Regions from separate parts of the Homo sapiens genome. Here region 1 is linked to region 2. Evidence: fine-mapped expression QTL. Tissue or cell type: whole blood. Region 2 holds a variant in brackets; the other region holds the start of a gene. All regions are shown on one strand. Distances are from middle to middle.

Region 1 (8,087 bases), 200 kb before region 2:
CCCAGCTGGCTAAGACCAACTGGATCCAACATGGCACTGGATTTCACCTAGATTTCTCCTAGGACCTCGTTATATTATTGTTAACATTATCAATTACATACCCACCAGTGCCATGACAGTCCTGAGAACACCCATATTTGGTGTGAAAAAATAGGTGGCACCACAGTTCTGAGAAATCTCTAAATTTTTCCAGGAATTTTAATGAATATTCCACCCCTTGGTTAAAGAAGCCCATAAAGACAGAAACTCCAAACTCCATCAAACAACTCTGTCTTAAGTACCCCCACAATCCCCTTTCTTGAGTATATGCTTTTCACTTTGCAATAAATCTCCTACTGTCACTATTTTCTGACTCATTCTTGAATTCCTGCTTGCAATGGTGTCAAGAGCCTGAACACTGTTATCACCTTGGCCTTAGACATCCAGCTTCCATAACATGGAAAAAATACATTTATGTTGTTTAAACCACCTAGTTGGTGATGTTCTGTTATGGCAGCCCTAGCAGACTGATACAGAAACAAAGGAATAGAGGTGCCAAGTAATTAATTAGAATCACTCAGTTAGTAGATGGCAGAGGGGATTAGGACCCAACCTCTAACCACTGCAGCTCTCTCAGCCAAGTTATTCTCTCACTTAAGCCAAGAGTCCAGATGAAACCATCTCATGATATAAAGAATCCAGAAACAATACTTCTATATTACCTAAAATGTATTATCTAAAATTATAAAATATAATATATTCAGGATGTAAAAATCTATGTCAGCCAAGAGCAATTTTTTTGGTAAAATGTTAAAAGTCCACAACACTAAAAATTCATTTTAACAATGATCAAAAAAGAGTCAAAGTCAGTAAAAGGTAGATTTATGTGAGATTTTATCCCAGTGGAGTATTATAAAAGAACTAAGAATTCTACTAAAAAAAAAATGGCTTTTGCTGTAAGTCATAACTAAGGGTTACATGCAAATTCCATCCTTGACCCCACTGAGGAGTACTAGTTCCCCTGCTATTATATCTCATTGAATCCCTTAGTTTCCTTCAAAGTTTTATTCTGTATAAGTATTTCTCAGTTTCTTACTTTGTAACATTTGGATAATAATAGTATTTGGGGGGAGAAAAGATAATTTTTCTCTCTACCCCTTATGAGTTCTAAGCTGGGATCCCCTATAACAAAAGACAGATTAACAACAACAAAAACCCCACGAGGTTATTAACATGTATATTTCATATATATGTACAGGAGATAGTCAGGGAATTAGTAATTTTCAAAGAGGTGACTTTGAATTCAAACTTAAATATCATCTTCAGCTGAAACAAAGAAAGAGGAGTATGGGGGTAGGGGTGCAGTTATGAGGAAGTGACCAGGTAAAGCATGGCAAACAAAGGTAAAGTTTGTTATGCGTATTTAAGTCAGAGCCCTCTCCATTGATAAGAGTTTCCAGTAATTTAGTGCCATCCTTTTCTTCCTAGAATTCAGAGGAAGACATTTTTACAAATGAAAATTTCCTTTATAGATTTAAATTCACCCTACAAAAAGGTAATTCCACTCTGTTCTCAGAGTTGCTCCTATAGCTGCTGTTTCTCAAACAAATGCTTATACTGAAAAGGCATATTCTGAAGTGGCACATTCTGGTCTTCTACAGTATCTATCTCACAAAGTTAGAGTGTAGAAATGTAAACACATGACTGTACATAAAATGCTTGAAACAATTAATAAATTTTCATCATTATTATTATTGTAGCATTTAATATAATGTTATTGCATATGTCTTTGTGATTATTCATTCAATGTTTAACTCCCCACTACTAGAAAATAAGTTTCCTGGTGCAGGGACAATTAGCCCCTGTGGCACATATCACAATGTTCCCTGCTATAGAGTTCTCGTCTCTATCTGAGCACGCAAAAATAACATGCTTTCTTGCTTTCTTGAAGTTGGGCATGGCCATTGACTTGCCTTAGCCCATAAAATATGAACAGAATTGTCACTTTTAGGTGGAAGATTTAAATACTTAATTCTCCACTTCTCTCTTTCCCTAACTCAGTGGATGTGAAACTGTTAGAGGTGGATGTGAAACTGTTAGAGGTGGAAGTTATTTGAGTCACCGGCAGAGACTGCAGCAACCTCAATTCTTGCCTCGGAAGGAAGAATATAATTGAGGGGCATAAGGCAGAATAAGAGACTGAGGCAAGTTTCAGAGCAAGAGTGGAAGTTAATTAAAAAGCTTTAGAGCAGCAAGAAAGGAAAGCACAGTTGGAAGAGGCCTAAGAGGGCATCTTGGACGTCAAGTGCCCCATTTGACCTTGCACTTAGGGTTTTACATGCTGGTCTACTTCTGGCGTCTTGCATTGCTTTAATGCCCCCAGAAGGTCATATACCAGTTAAACTCCACCATTTTGCATCTTAATGCACATGCTTGAGTTCAGTCACCCACCTCCTGAGATCTTATTGGAAGCTGCTGATTACCAGTTTCATGTGTTCCCTATTTATGGGGAGATGGTCAGTCCCTCGTGCCAGCTGTAACCAATTATTATTTTAGAGAGACAGTTAATAACTGCCTGGCCATCACATGATGGTTACCTGACTTTCCTGGTGGGGTGTGGGGGGAGCCCTCTGCTGCCCCACTCATGCCTATCTAGCTACCTACTGTAACAAAAGCAGGTTTCGATATGGCGGTACAACACTGATCCTGAGGACAGCTACTCTGAGGAGTAACCTGGATCCATAGCAGACTTTGATGAGCAAAAAATAAACCATTATCGCTTAAGCTTGGGAGACTTTGGGCTGGTTTGTTACAGCAGCATAACCTACACTACCCTGGCTATTACAACCATTGTATTTCCATTGCCTAGCATAAGGGCTGGCGTAAAATAAGTGATTAAATATGCTCTGACTAAATTAATTAATAAATTAAAATTTTTAATCAGCAATTAAAATGAACTATTTTAATCAAAGAAATTATTTCAACTCTATCCTGCGTACAATAGAAAAGTTTTGGAAATTTTCACTGATTAGTGTGTAGGGGTCATGATTCTTTGAGTACCAAACCATTATCTTAGATATCAAGGTTAGAGTTGCACATGCTTCGCACTCCAGAAAGACTCCTTCAAGTTTTGCTGAATTTCAATTGAATAAATTTTTTCTGTGAAGTGGTCTTCAAAAACCTATATTTCTGCCATAGAGTCACTTACTTAACCTGCCCTATTTAAAGGGGCTAATGCCTGATAGAATGTCGCTGCATAACTCCATCTGTGTGTGGTCCCTGCATCCATGACAACCAAAACCCAGATGCAGAAATTGTTCCTAATCACATAGATTACCCTAGAAACCGGAAGGGCCTTGAAGTCAAAAGCATTCAGAGAACATGCTGAACAAATTGAATTTGCAGTTTATCTGGCCAGGGAGGATGGAGAGGGGATGGGCACTTGGTCTGAGTATTTTTTGTTTCTCATTCCAACAGAAATTACTAGATTTACCAAAACAAAGAGAAAAAAATATGATCCAAATTTAATCTGGTTGTGGAAGTGTGAGCAAAATCTACAAGTGGTAGTGTGATAGAGTCAGGCAGAGGAATTGACCATAGATAAGGTGCTCAGGACTCCTAGAGTCAGCTTCTGGTATGTGAGAAAGAAGTGAGAACAGAGCCCATGGCATATGAAGAAGATATTACAGAAAAAAGAAAGCTGCCTTCCACGCAAATCATTTCTTTACAAAGGCTTGTTAACTCCTGCAGTGCCCCAGCTCTAGTGACTAGGGGACCAATAGGTTCATTAATAACAGAATTGGGAGAGAACCTGGCATCTGCTTTGATCGAAGTGTGAGAATTAAGCAAGCCTAAAGTGTAGCAAGAGCAGGGAGGGAACTGAATGAAAGGTCAGTTCTAATCTGTAGGCTTTGGAGAAGCTTTGGGCTCTTGAGAGGGAGTAGAGTACAGAGGCTGAGCGGGGTGCCTGGGCAGGCATCTTATCATTACTTGCGAGTTGTGTGAACTCGGGCAAGTTAAACTTCTCTGTGCTTCTACTTTCTCCCCTGAAAACGAGGATATAATCTCCAAGGATTGTTGTGAGAACTAAATGACTTGGTTGATTCCTGAACAGCACGTTGTCCAGTGCCTAGCACATAGCAATCACTCAGGAAACGTCAGCCTTTATTATGGGCCTAGTGCACAAACTATTCTTACCAGTTATGCGACCTTGAGAACATTGTCTTCTCTGTGCCTTCATTTTCTCACCTGTAAAATGGAATAATAATAATTCTTAGAAGGATTCATGAAACAACGCCTAGTAGGGTGTCTGGCTTAGTTATCCCCCCGACAGTATTTTCTTCTAGTAAGAAGCTGAATGCAGCGGCAGACATCCTGGTTCGGGCCCCAGGAAGCTCAGCCGGGTTTAATGTGGATGAGGGTTTAATGATGTACACGCAGAAGTGTTTTGACAAATGAAGAAGGTCCTCATTCTTGGAACATGTGCCGGTTCTCCGAGGGAACTCCTAAAATGGCATAAGGTCACCTTTTTAAAGGCTGTAAGCTCATGTAGGAAAAGCTGAGCTAGATTCCTAAGGGCAGAGATGTGCTCACATTTCTTTGCATCCCTAGTTCCCAGCACAGTGCAAGGCGCTGCAAACATTTGCTGAACCCAGGGTCTCGTGTCTTGACTGTCCAGCAGAGGCCGCTCTGGGCCGGGGCTCTCGGGACCTGAGGGCTGAGAGAAGGAAGGCCAGGGGGTGGCCCAGTCATCGCCGCGGGGCCCGGGTGGGAGGGGTTTGGCAGCGGCAGGCGCGGCGGCGGCGGCGGAGGCGGAGGCGGCCCCGGGCTCGGGCGGCTGGGATGGAGCAGAAGAGCGCGGAGCACCGGAGGGCACGCAGCTGACGGAGCTGCGCTGCGTTCGCCTCGTTTGCCTCGCGCCCTCCACTGGAGCTGTTCGCGCCTCCCGGCTCCCACCGCAGCCCACCCGGCAGAGGAGTCGCTACCAGCGCCCAGTGCGCTCTGTCAGTCCGCAAACTCCTTGCCGCCCGCCCCGGGCTGGGCACCAAATACCAGGCTACCATGGTCTACAAGACTCTCTTCGCTCTTTGCATCTTAACTGCAGGTAATTGGCGCCATCCTCCCGGAAGGGCAGGTCGCGGGGTGGGCCCCAGTAGCTAGCGCGTGGTCGGGGCTGAAGCTAGGAGATCCGGCAGTGAGTCGCCGCGCGCCTCCGGGTGAGTGCGCAGGTGTGTGCGCACTTAGATTTGGGGTGACGTGCACCTTTGGCGGTCCCGAACCGTACTGAGGGAGGGGACGATGGGGTCCTTCCTGCCGCAGCCCGCGCCCGCACAAACTCCAGCTTTGTAGAACAGGTGGCTGTCTTAGCTGCGTGTTCGAACCCAGAGTGGGCAACACGGACTGCGCCTCAAGGCTTCTCTTTCTTCACCAGGGTTTCGGAGCGCACTCTGCCAAAGTACGGGACCAGACTTCTTGTTGCCGTTGGGCCCTGGAAGGGATGAAAAAGCCGGGGAAGTGGGGGTGGGAGGTTCGCATCTGGGAAGGCTTCAGCAGCGGCTGCGCGCCTGGCGGGGCTGGTTTGCTTTCTCGAGTCTTGGCGGTCTCTGATCTCCGGCGTCCCTTCCTAGTTATGCTTAGGATGATGTGGCACTAACAGCAGCGGCCCGGCCTTGGTCAGGCTCGCAATCGTCACTGGGGGTAGCAAGGCTACCTTCTGCCCCAGAACTCCCCAAAAACGTATCCCATAGAAGAAACTATTAACTTGGCTAAACTAGCATCCTCTCCCCTCCCCCTGCACCACCTCTGAAAGGCTTCGTAGGAGCCACTCTCGGGTTTCGGGACCACAGACGGCGACGACCTCTGGCAGCGGGGATGGGGAAGAGGGGAGCCAGATGACTGAGCTCGGCTTGGCGGGGACCGGGGAGAGATTCAGAAAGACGCTTTGAATCTAGAGTTCAGGTACCTATTTTTTCCAGAAAACGTCTCCCGAAAAGGGACAACTGGCTGTGGATATGGTGCTGCTGGGAAAAGTAGCCCGACTGCGCGGCCACTGGCATTTTCAGTTTAAATGTGACCCAAAGTCACATAGCGCAAACCGATTCTACTCGTGCTTTAGTCTGTATATCCTCCCTCTGAGTTCGTCGGGTTCCTACAGTTGTGGACACGAGTCGTCGCAATCCCTTGAAAAGAAGCTAGCGGTTTTCAGGCAGCTCACAGTGGGTAATGCAGTTATAAGGAAAAGTTTCCCAACTTGAAACTATAGCGTATTTTCTCTACTTAGTGAACGTCCGTCTGAGAAAACCTCTTTCTCGCTGGTATCTCGGCACGGTTTGGAGACGCGTCCGCGGACAGTTCCCGAATACTCGCAGGCGGCTTTGGCTGCCCAGCCTCGGGCTGAGATGAGAGAGCCTAGGTCCGGCAGGTGCAATAGGCAGCGGAGCTCCCGGCTGGCTGCGGGTGGTAATTCCTGTAATCCTCAAAGCAGGAGATGCTTACGTAATGACACGGAAGGTACCTTTACTTCTCCTCACTCAAAAATCTTTTCTTGAGGTTCAGAAACCCTTGAGTGAGTCAGTAGAGAGGTTCGTTTGCAAATTTGATTTAGTGGCTTGTCTTGTTTATTTAATCATTTCCTTTTTTAAACAGCTCTGGCAGTTGTCAAAACCGGGATTAACCCTAACAAACAGTGTATTGTAGCTTCCCCACCCCCACCCCAAGAAGCTCTTTTTTCTTTTTTTTTTTTTTCTTTTTTCTTTTATTCAGCGTTACAGTTTAGCTCCGCTATTCCGGGAGGAATATCACCCTTGACCCACCGCTAGAGCGAGGAGACTGGTGGGCCAGGGACCGGCTGAGCACCACTCCTACCCCCACGCACTAATTAGGATCAGAGCCCAGATGGTCACAGCCTTCCAGCTGTGAGGCTCGAGACTCAGGAAGACATACTGCCTCATTTCCCTAGTTATGCTTCGATATGCATATCCCAAGCTGAAAATGATGAAGCTAATGGACACTGCATTCCCCCTGAAGTTTGTGCCTTTGAAGGAATCTCTTTAAGACGTCAGTTTGTTGTTAGAGCTACTTTGCAATAAATCGTCCGAAAAAATAATATAAAAATTGGCATAAATACCTCATGAGATTCTTTGCACCTTAATTTTAAGGTGTTTTCAGAATGTAAAATATCATTTTTAAAGAAAAAAATAGACGTGTTGGTAAAGAAGAAAGGGATGAGGGCTCTTGAAGTGAAAGTGCACACACATGTGTTTTGGGGGCTTATCCCAGAACTCCCCTAGCAAATCTCTAGTTAGTTTCACCAGGCCTTGTGTCTTTTCTGTTTCCTTCTCATTTTCCTCCTCTAGCCATAGGCTTCAACAATATTTCTGTAAAATTCTTAAGGTGATACTTTCTTGAGCCAGGAACAGCATTAGGCAGGGGCCTGTTTTTTGGCTCAACAAATCCTCTCAAAGTATACATAGTATTTCCTCCAGCACATACAATGGACACTTGCAAATATGTGTGCGTTGTCAACAAGCCAACAAGGGTAGATCTCTACATGTATTCACTCGGGTATATATAAATATATTTATATATTTTTAGACAAAGGGTCTAGCTCTGTCACCTAGACTGGAGTGCAATGGCGCGATTCCAGTTCCACTGCAACCTCGGCCTCCCCATCCTCTCATCTCAACCTCCTGAGTAGCTGGGACTACAGGTTCACACCACCATAGGCAGCTAAATTTTTTTATTTTTTGTAGATATGGGGGGTATTCCTATGCTGCCCAGGTTGGTCTTGAACTCCTGAACGTAAGTGATCCTCCCACCTTGGTCATCCAAAGTACTGGGATGACAGATGTGAGCCACTGTGCCCAGCCTCACTTCTATTTCTAAAAGGAGAGAGAAATCTTAGATGGTCTTCAGTTCTCTCAAGGTTGATTATGGTAGAAAACTAGATGTCTATTCTATAAACCATTTTCAAACACTTCTTATGCCAGGATAAGGCATATTGGAGTACTGATTCCAGATTAAAATACAAACCAGAGCCTCCAACCTTTATCCCCAAAACCAAGAAGGGAACGAGAATGGCAGGCCCCTGGTAGCTTCCACATTTATCC
Region 2 (8,108 bases):
CTCCCTAACTCATTTTATGAGGCCAGCATCATTCTGATACCAAAGCCGGGCAGAGACACAACCAAAAAAGAGAATTTTAGACCAATATCCTTGATGAACATTGATGCAAAAATCCTCAATAAAATACTGGCAAAACGAATCCAGCAGCACATCAAAAAGCTTATCCACCATGATCAAGTGGGCTTCATCCCTGGGATGCAAGGCTGGTTCAATATACGCAAATCAATAAATATAATCCAGCATATAAACAGAGCCAAAGACAAAAACCACATGATTATCTCAATAGATGCAGAAAAGGCCTTTGACAGAATTCAACAACCCTTCATGCTAAAAACTCTCAATAAATTAGGTATTGATGGGATGTATTTCAAAATAATAAGAGTTATCTATGACAAACCCACAGCCAATATCATACTGAATGGGCAAAAACTGGAAGCATTCCCTTTGAAAACTGGCACAAGACAGGGATGCCCTCTCTCACCACTCCTATTCAACATAGTGTTGGAAGTTCTGGCCAGGGCAATTAGGCAGGAGAAGGAAATAAAGGGTATTCAATTAGGAAAAGAGGAAGTCAAATTGTCCCTGTTTGCAGACGACATGATTGTATATCTAGAAAACCCCATTGTCTCAGCCCAAAATCTCCTTAAGCTGATAAGCAACTTCAGGAAAGTCTCAGGATACAAAATCAATGTACAAAAATCACAAGCATTCTTATACACCAACAACAGACAAACAGAGAGCTAAAACATGAGTGAACTCCCATTCACAATTGCTTCAAAGAGAATAAAATACCTAGGAATCCAATTTACAAGGGATGTGAAGGACCTCTTCAAGGAGAACTACAAACCACTTCTCAAGGAAATAAAAGAGGATACAAACAAATGGAAGAACATTCCATGCTCATGGGTAGGAAGAATCAATATCGTGAAAATGGCCATACTGCCCAAGGTAATTTACAGATTCAATGCCATCCCCATCAAGCTATCAATGACTTTCTTCACAGAATTGGAAAAAACTACTTTAAAGTTCATATGGAACCAAAAAAGAGCCCACATCGCCAAGGCAATCCTAAGCCAAAAGAACAAAGCTGGAGGCATCACACTACCTGACTTCAAACTATACTACAAGGCTACAGTAACCAAAACAGCGTGGTACTGGTACCAAAACAGAGATATAGATCAATGGAACAGAACAGAGCCCTCAGAAATAATGCCGCATATCTACAACTATCTGATCTTTGACAAACCTGACAAAAACAAGCAATGGGGAAAGGATTCCCTATTTAATAAATGGTGCTGGCAAAACTGGCTAGCCATATGTAGAAAGCTGAAACTGGATCCCTTCCTTACACCTTATACAAAAATCAATTCAAGATGGATTAAAGACTTAAACGTTAGACCTAAAACCATAAAAACCCTAGAAGAAAACCTAGGCATTACCATTCAGGACATAGGCATGGGCAAGGACTTCATGTCCAAAACACCAAAAGCAATGGCAATAAAAGACAAAATTGACAAATGGGATCTAATTAAACTAAAGAGCTTCTGCACAGCAAAAGAAACTACCATCAGAGTGAACAGGCAACCTACAAAATGGGAGAAAATTTTCGCAACCTACTCATCTGACAAAGGGCTAATATCCAGAATCTACAATGAACTCAAACAAATTTACAAGAAAAAAACAAACAACCCCATCAAAAAGTGGGTGAAGGATATGAACAGACACTTCTCAAAAGAAGACATTTATGCAGCCAACAGACACATGAAAAAATGCTCATCATCACTGGCCATCAGAGAAATGCAAATCAAAACCACAATGAGATACCATCTCACACCAGTTAGAATGGCAATCATTAAAAAGTCAGGAAACAACAGGTGCTGGAGAGGATGTGGAGAAATAGGAACACTTTGACACTGTTGGTGGGACTGTAAACTAGTTCAACCATTGTGGAAGTCAGTGTGGCGATTCCTCAGGGATCTAGAACTAGAAATACCATTTGACCCAGCCATCCCATTACTGGGTATATACCCAAAGGACTATAAATCATGCTGCTATAAAGACACATGCACACGTATGTTTATTGCGGCATTAATCACAATAGCAAAGACTTGGAACCAACCCAAATGTCCAACAATGATAGACTGGATTAAGAAAATGTGGCACATATACACCATGGAATACTATGCAGCCATAAAAAATGATGAGTTCATGTCCTTTGTAGGGACATGGATGAAATTGGAAATCATCATTCTCAGTAAACTATCACAAGAACAAAAAACCAAACACTGCATATTCTCACTCATAGGTGGGAATTGAACAATGAAATCACATGGACACAGGAAGGGGAATATCACACTCTGGGGACTGTGGTGGGGTGAGGGGAGGGGGGAGGGATAGCATTGGGAGATATACCTAATGCTAGATGACGAGTTAGTGGGTGCAGCGCACCAGCATGGCACATGTATACATATGTAACTAACCTGCACAATGTGCACATGTACCCTAAAACTTAAAGTATAATTAAAAAAAAAAAAGAAAATTAACAAACAAAAAAAAATTACAAGGAATGAAAAGGAAAAATAATAATAATAATAAAATAAAAACCTAGATGAATCACTGTGTTCCTTCTAGCTCCTTCTAGTCCCTTCTAATGCCTGAGATTAACCTGACTTAGCCTCAAGAGTCCATCATGCTCCTGTACAAGCCCCTTTTCCATAACCCCACATTTTCATTTTCTCCCTCTCAAGAATTCTAGGGTTCATACTACATGCATACCTCGCCTTACATTAAGGGATATATGTATATATATATATATATATATATATATATATATATATACTTTAAGTTCTGGGGCACATGTGCAGAATGTGCAGGTTTGTTACATAGATACACATGTGGCATGGTGGTTCGCTGCACCCATCAACCCATCATCTACATTAGGTATTTCTCCTAATGCTGTCCCTCCCATCGCCCCTCACCTGCAACAGGCCCCGGTGTAGGTTGTTACCCTCCCTGTGTCCATGTGTTCTCATTGTTCAACTCCCACTTTCTTAAAGGTTGTTTACCAGATTTTGCAAACTATGTTATATTGCTACTTGTTTCATTTGTCCAAAGTCGTTGTCTTATTATCTAATAGTTATTCAAATGACTGCTCTCCACCCTCCCAATACTTCAATTCCAACCCCTAGGACACATCTTTCTCCTTTCATCATAGGTTCTTCAAGTCATCTTCAAATGATTAGAACACATAAATGCAGTGGGAGGTATGGCTTTGTGACTTCCCATCTCCTAACTGACTGTCCTGAAAATGTGGAAGTTTTCTTGACACTGAGTAGACCTGCAAGTGGCCACAGGGTAAGTGCCACGCAGCCCACTAGTTTTAGCAAACTAAAATTTAGTGTAAGAATTAAAATACTTTCTTCACCTTGGAGCATTTTGTCTTTCTAATGAGTCTATCTTTAGGGTTTAAGAGTGTCAAGCCTCAACTATTTTGGGTCATTAAAAACCCAGGGCACGGTTACAGGGTGGACAGGTGCTAATTCCTCTCTTCTGGCTGCACTCCACTTTCAGTAATGGCAACTGGCACCTGCAAATCCCCTTTGTGACACTAGAATGAGATCTGAAATCATTTTGCCCTGTATAATAGCTGAGACATTGGTTCCCCGGGAAGGCTGCCTCACATGAACACAGTATTTAGCAGAGACCTCTTCTAATCATATCCCTCAGAAAACATACTGGAGGCCCTCTCTAAAGTCCATCTCACTCTCACCACAAAACAAAGGAGGCTGTGGCATCACCAAAACACCCTTGATACTGCATAGATTTCTGCTATCTTTATAATCACCTCTTCCAAGTCTCTCCAGACACAAAATGAGAAATGTCAAAATTGAATTATTCCTTCATAATTATGCTCCTTAACTTGAAAGTTAAGAAATGGCCAAGTTAAGAAAGAAATGGCCAAGATTTCCCAAGATTAGAACAGAAATATGCCACAAAAAGAGCATTAGTGTGATATATCTATACTACCCAGTAACAAAAAGGAATAAACTGTTGATACACACAATAATCCAGTGACACATTTCCAAAGTAAAAGCCAGAAACAGTGGCTCATGCCTGTAATCCCAGCACTTTGGGAAGCCAAGGCAGGAGGACAGCTTGAAACCAGGAGTTTGAGACCAGCCTGGGCAACACAGTGAGACCCTCTCTATA[C/CA]AAAAAAAAAAATTTACAGACTACTCAGGCATCTTGACATGCACCTGTCATTCCACCTACTCAGGAGCCGGAGGTGGGAGGATCATTTAAGCCCAGGAGTTGGAAGATGCAGTGAGCTATGATCACACCACTGCACTCCAGCCTGAGCAACAAAGTGAGACCCTTTCCCAAAAAAGAACAAATCTCCAGAGATTATGCAGAGTTTAAAAAGCCAATCTAAAAGGTTACATACTGTATGATTCCATTTGTACAACATAAAATGACAAAATTATAGAAATGGAGAACAGATTAGAGTGGTTGCCAATGGTGAAAAAGTGAATTGGGTAGGTTGAAAGTGAGTATTGCTGTAAAAGAATGGCCTGAAGCATCCTAATGGTGGAAATGTTCTGTAACCTGACAATATCAATGTCAATATCTTGGTTGTACTATATTGTACTATAGTTTTTCAAGATGTTGCCACTTGGGGAAACTGAGTAAAAGATGCAAGGGGCCTCTGTATTATTTCTTACAACTGCATATGCAACAATCTCAAAATAAAAACTTTAATTAAAAAAAAAGCATTGGATTGAGACTGACAAGACCAGGTTCTAGTTCAGGCCCTTCCCATAACAAGCATGATCCAAGTCACTCAACCTCTTTCATCCTCAATTTCAACGTCTGTGAAATGGAGTTGAACAAGTTCATCCCCAGCATCCTGAGGAGTTCTACAGCTGAGCGATATCAGAGCTGCTCTTGATTCACAACAGCCCTTGAAACAGAGGGGCCCTCTGAATAGTCAAGCTACCATGGCTGAGTGGGTAATATACTTAAATAGTCTCTATAAATACCATTTTAAAAGACACAAACCTAGCTTACATTAAACATAACATGCAACGGCATAAACAAAGAAACAATTTGAAAGAAGAAAAGCTTGAAACAAATACTACCTCATCATTAAGGTTGTGACTACTAATAAACGAGTAATGTTCTATAAAATAGCGTAATGAAACAATGTATTTTGTTTACTGTAAATCAAGACAGCTAACCAGCATTTCTACCATTTTCTTGACATTATACACCCAAATTACCCCCTCATTCCCCAGACACTTTTCATTGTCAAACTATTCTTGTTCTTAATGCCCTACCCTCTGGGGAATGGCAGTGTGCAAAACAGGAAGTCCTTTAATATAACTTACAATTTTAGAAGGGAAAAACCCAAGCACCTTATTAAGAAATGAAAATTACAATCAGTCAAATTGTTGTTTATTTTTTATGTCACCAAATAAACCAGCCTGCTTTTATACACAAGATAAACTAAATTGAGTAATTTATTTAACATCAGAAGTATAATCGGTGTTAAAATATCAACAAACTGGGTAGTCTATTATATCAAATTAGCAACCTTTTTCCTGAAAAGGGTATTTTTCAAGGTGCTTCATTTTAAAAGGAGTGCATATTATTAAAGAAAGCCACATCAAACAAACAGTAACAAAACAATGTAAAGTCACTATCATCAGCAGTATTTGAGAAAAGGAGACAGGGTTGTGGGGGTAGGTTAATCAGTGAAGATGGAACTAGATCTCATGTATTGATTGCCATAGCCAAATAACTCAAATATATTATCATTACATCTACTGAAACTACATACAATATAATTAATTCTCTTTGGATAACTCAGTGGCCATATAAAATTTGCACTCTCTCAGATAAGAATAGGCATGACCTATTCGGTGCTGCACAGTGCTGAAATGCTTGATAGATTAGATGGAACCTACCAAATCTTGTGAAAAATAAGGTGTCGCTTTAAAATTTTAAAGAATCCCCACTACCAACTTATTAGTTCCACTTATTGCTTCAATACAAATTTCCAGGCAAAACAAGGACCCTCTCAGTATTCAGCAATTGTCATTTTTCATCTAGGAATGAACAGATGTTGCCTTAATGATTTTGTCTTCTGTGCTAAAATCGTTTCTTCGCTGCCCGTATTAATTTCTCAAGATTCGTAAGCTTCACACACTATTTTTGTAATCTCATTCCTATGTGCCTATTTAACTTTTCATTACATTTAATACTTCCCTCACTTGGTCTATAGCAATCAAAAAGTTTGTCAATAAGCAAACATTTATATTGTTCCCATTATGTGAAAGACACATTATTTTCACTGCACTTACTAAGTATTGAAGAATATACTTAAATATTTTAAGAATTGATGTTTATTTATAGCTATAAGATTTATTCCCAGAAACATTCCAGTGTTTTTTCATCATTAGAAATTTTGCAAAAATAATGTTAGGCAACGATTTTCTTCTAGAAAATCCTTAAAGTGTTGAAAAAATATTCTGTGCCTGGCTTATTTGTAAAAAAAAAAGAAATCTTTAATGTGCCATTCTTAACATAATTTTAGGTATAAACAATAATAATAGAACTCTAAGCACAGCATTTTAATGACACCCCTTATTTTCCAACAGATACATGTAGCTTCCTGAAACAACTTTAATATAGCTTTTTTTCTTTTTTAAAGTGTATGACTCAATTGTGTTTGCTTGTGAAATTACTTTGCAAAGATCTTGACTCACAGATGGAGGCTCTTTGCAGTGGTTCAGTGAGAAGCACTCACAGAAAATCTTATTGGTTGTGAGGCTTTAGGCATATCCTAAGGATCACAAAACTTTATTCCTTTTTATTAACCAGATCAAAAGATTTTTATAAAATTTCTTTTTAAAATTGATTGAATCTCAAGATTAGAAATGACTTTTTTTTTTTTTTTTGGAGGAAGATCTGGCTACTTATCCAGTGCTTGAAACACTCCCACAACCCACTGCCAAATGTTCATTCATTCTCCATTTAAACAGAGAAGAAGATATAAGTTAATAGAGCATGTCTCAAATCAGAGTCACTTAAGCTGCTCCTTATAATTCAGTCCTGACCTGATCCAACTTGGGTATGCACAATTTTCAAGGTTTTAAAAATAAATATCAAAAACAAAATAAATAAATAAATAAATAAATAGATAAATAAATAAATAAATAAATATCAGGCTCCTCCAACAGTTGTAGGTGAAGGTTATGGGTTTCCTTTCCACAACCCCCCTAAAACCAAATCTCAGACTGAATCTTGGTACACACCTTAGCATTTCTTAGCAAACATTCAACACTCATACCACCAGTTTGTCAAAACCCCTTGGAGTTATAGGTGTCCATTCCTCTAAGTGCTCTAATGGACTCTTCCATGAACATCTCATTGGATGGGAAGGAAGCCACACTCCAGCTGCAAGATTCTGCTATCTAGTTAGAGACAGGAGACCAAGAAGTCTCCAAATCATCAGATGAACATAGGCCCTTGAAGACTCAAAGCTCTGGGTGCCATTCCTAAGGATACAGATCACCGAGCCAGCTGGTCTGTATTCTGCAAAGACACCAAGACTCTCTCTAGTATTTCCAGAAAATCTACAAAAAATGAAAACCACTGATTTCGGCAAGAAATCCCTAGTTCTAACATTCACTAGTGAAATTACCAAAACTTTTTATGTCAACTGGAGATAAATATAATTGAATTTCTCTGGGTCATGGCTTTTTATTAAATGTTAGCTAACTTCTCTGGAGTGGATATTTCTGATTAAAGCAACTAACCACAGTAAAGGTGTAGATTAAAACAAACACACACAAACATGTTCAAATTACATAATCTATGCTGAAGTATTTTAAAGTAAATTACCCAAGACCTGCTGATTCATAATATCTAAGCCTGAAAATCCATGTTTCTATACATGATCCTCGTGTGCTACCTATGCACACTAGAATTTTGTGAACCCCTATCACAGATGTTAAGAACAGGGGCTCTGGGGAAAACAGACTTGTGTTAGAATCCTGGCTCTTCCACTCTATAGCTATGTACCTATAAAAATTATTTAAACTCTGATT

What was found. PIP is the estimated chance that this variant, and not a neighbour inherited with it, causes the effect.
Region 1: it holds the start of PARM1, and the variant in region 2 is fine-mapped to the expression of PARM1 in whole blood (INTERVAL, PIP above 0.99).

Annotation. Positions count from the first base shown.
Region 1 is chr4:74,928,288-74,936,374 of GRCh38, forward strand. It overlaps PARM1 (prostate androgen-regulated mucin-like protein 1), which reads left to right and starts at 4,829. Exons shown (of 4, transcript NM_015393.4): 1 at 4,829-5,083. The coding sequence starts at 5,041. RefSeq lists silencers at 4,663-4,972, 5,553-5,602 and an enhancer at 5,713-5,762.
Region 2 is chr4:75,130,305-75,138,412 of GRCh38, forward strand. No RefSeq gene overlaps it. Among named protein-coding and RNA genes, the nearest start is that of LINC02562, 50 kb to the left of the region's middle. The variant C/CA (reference allele first, on the strand shown) is at 4,210.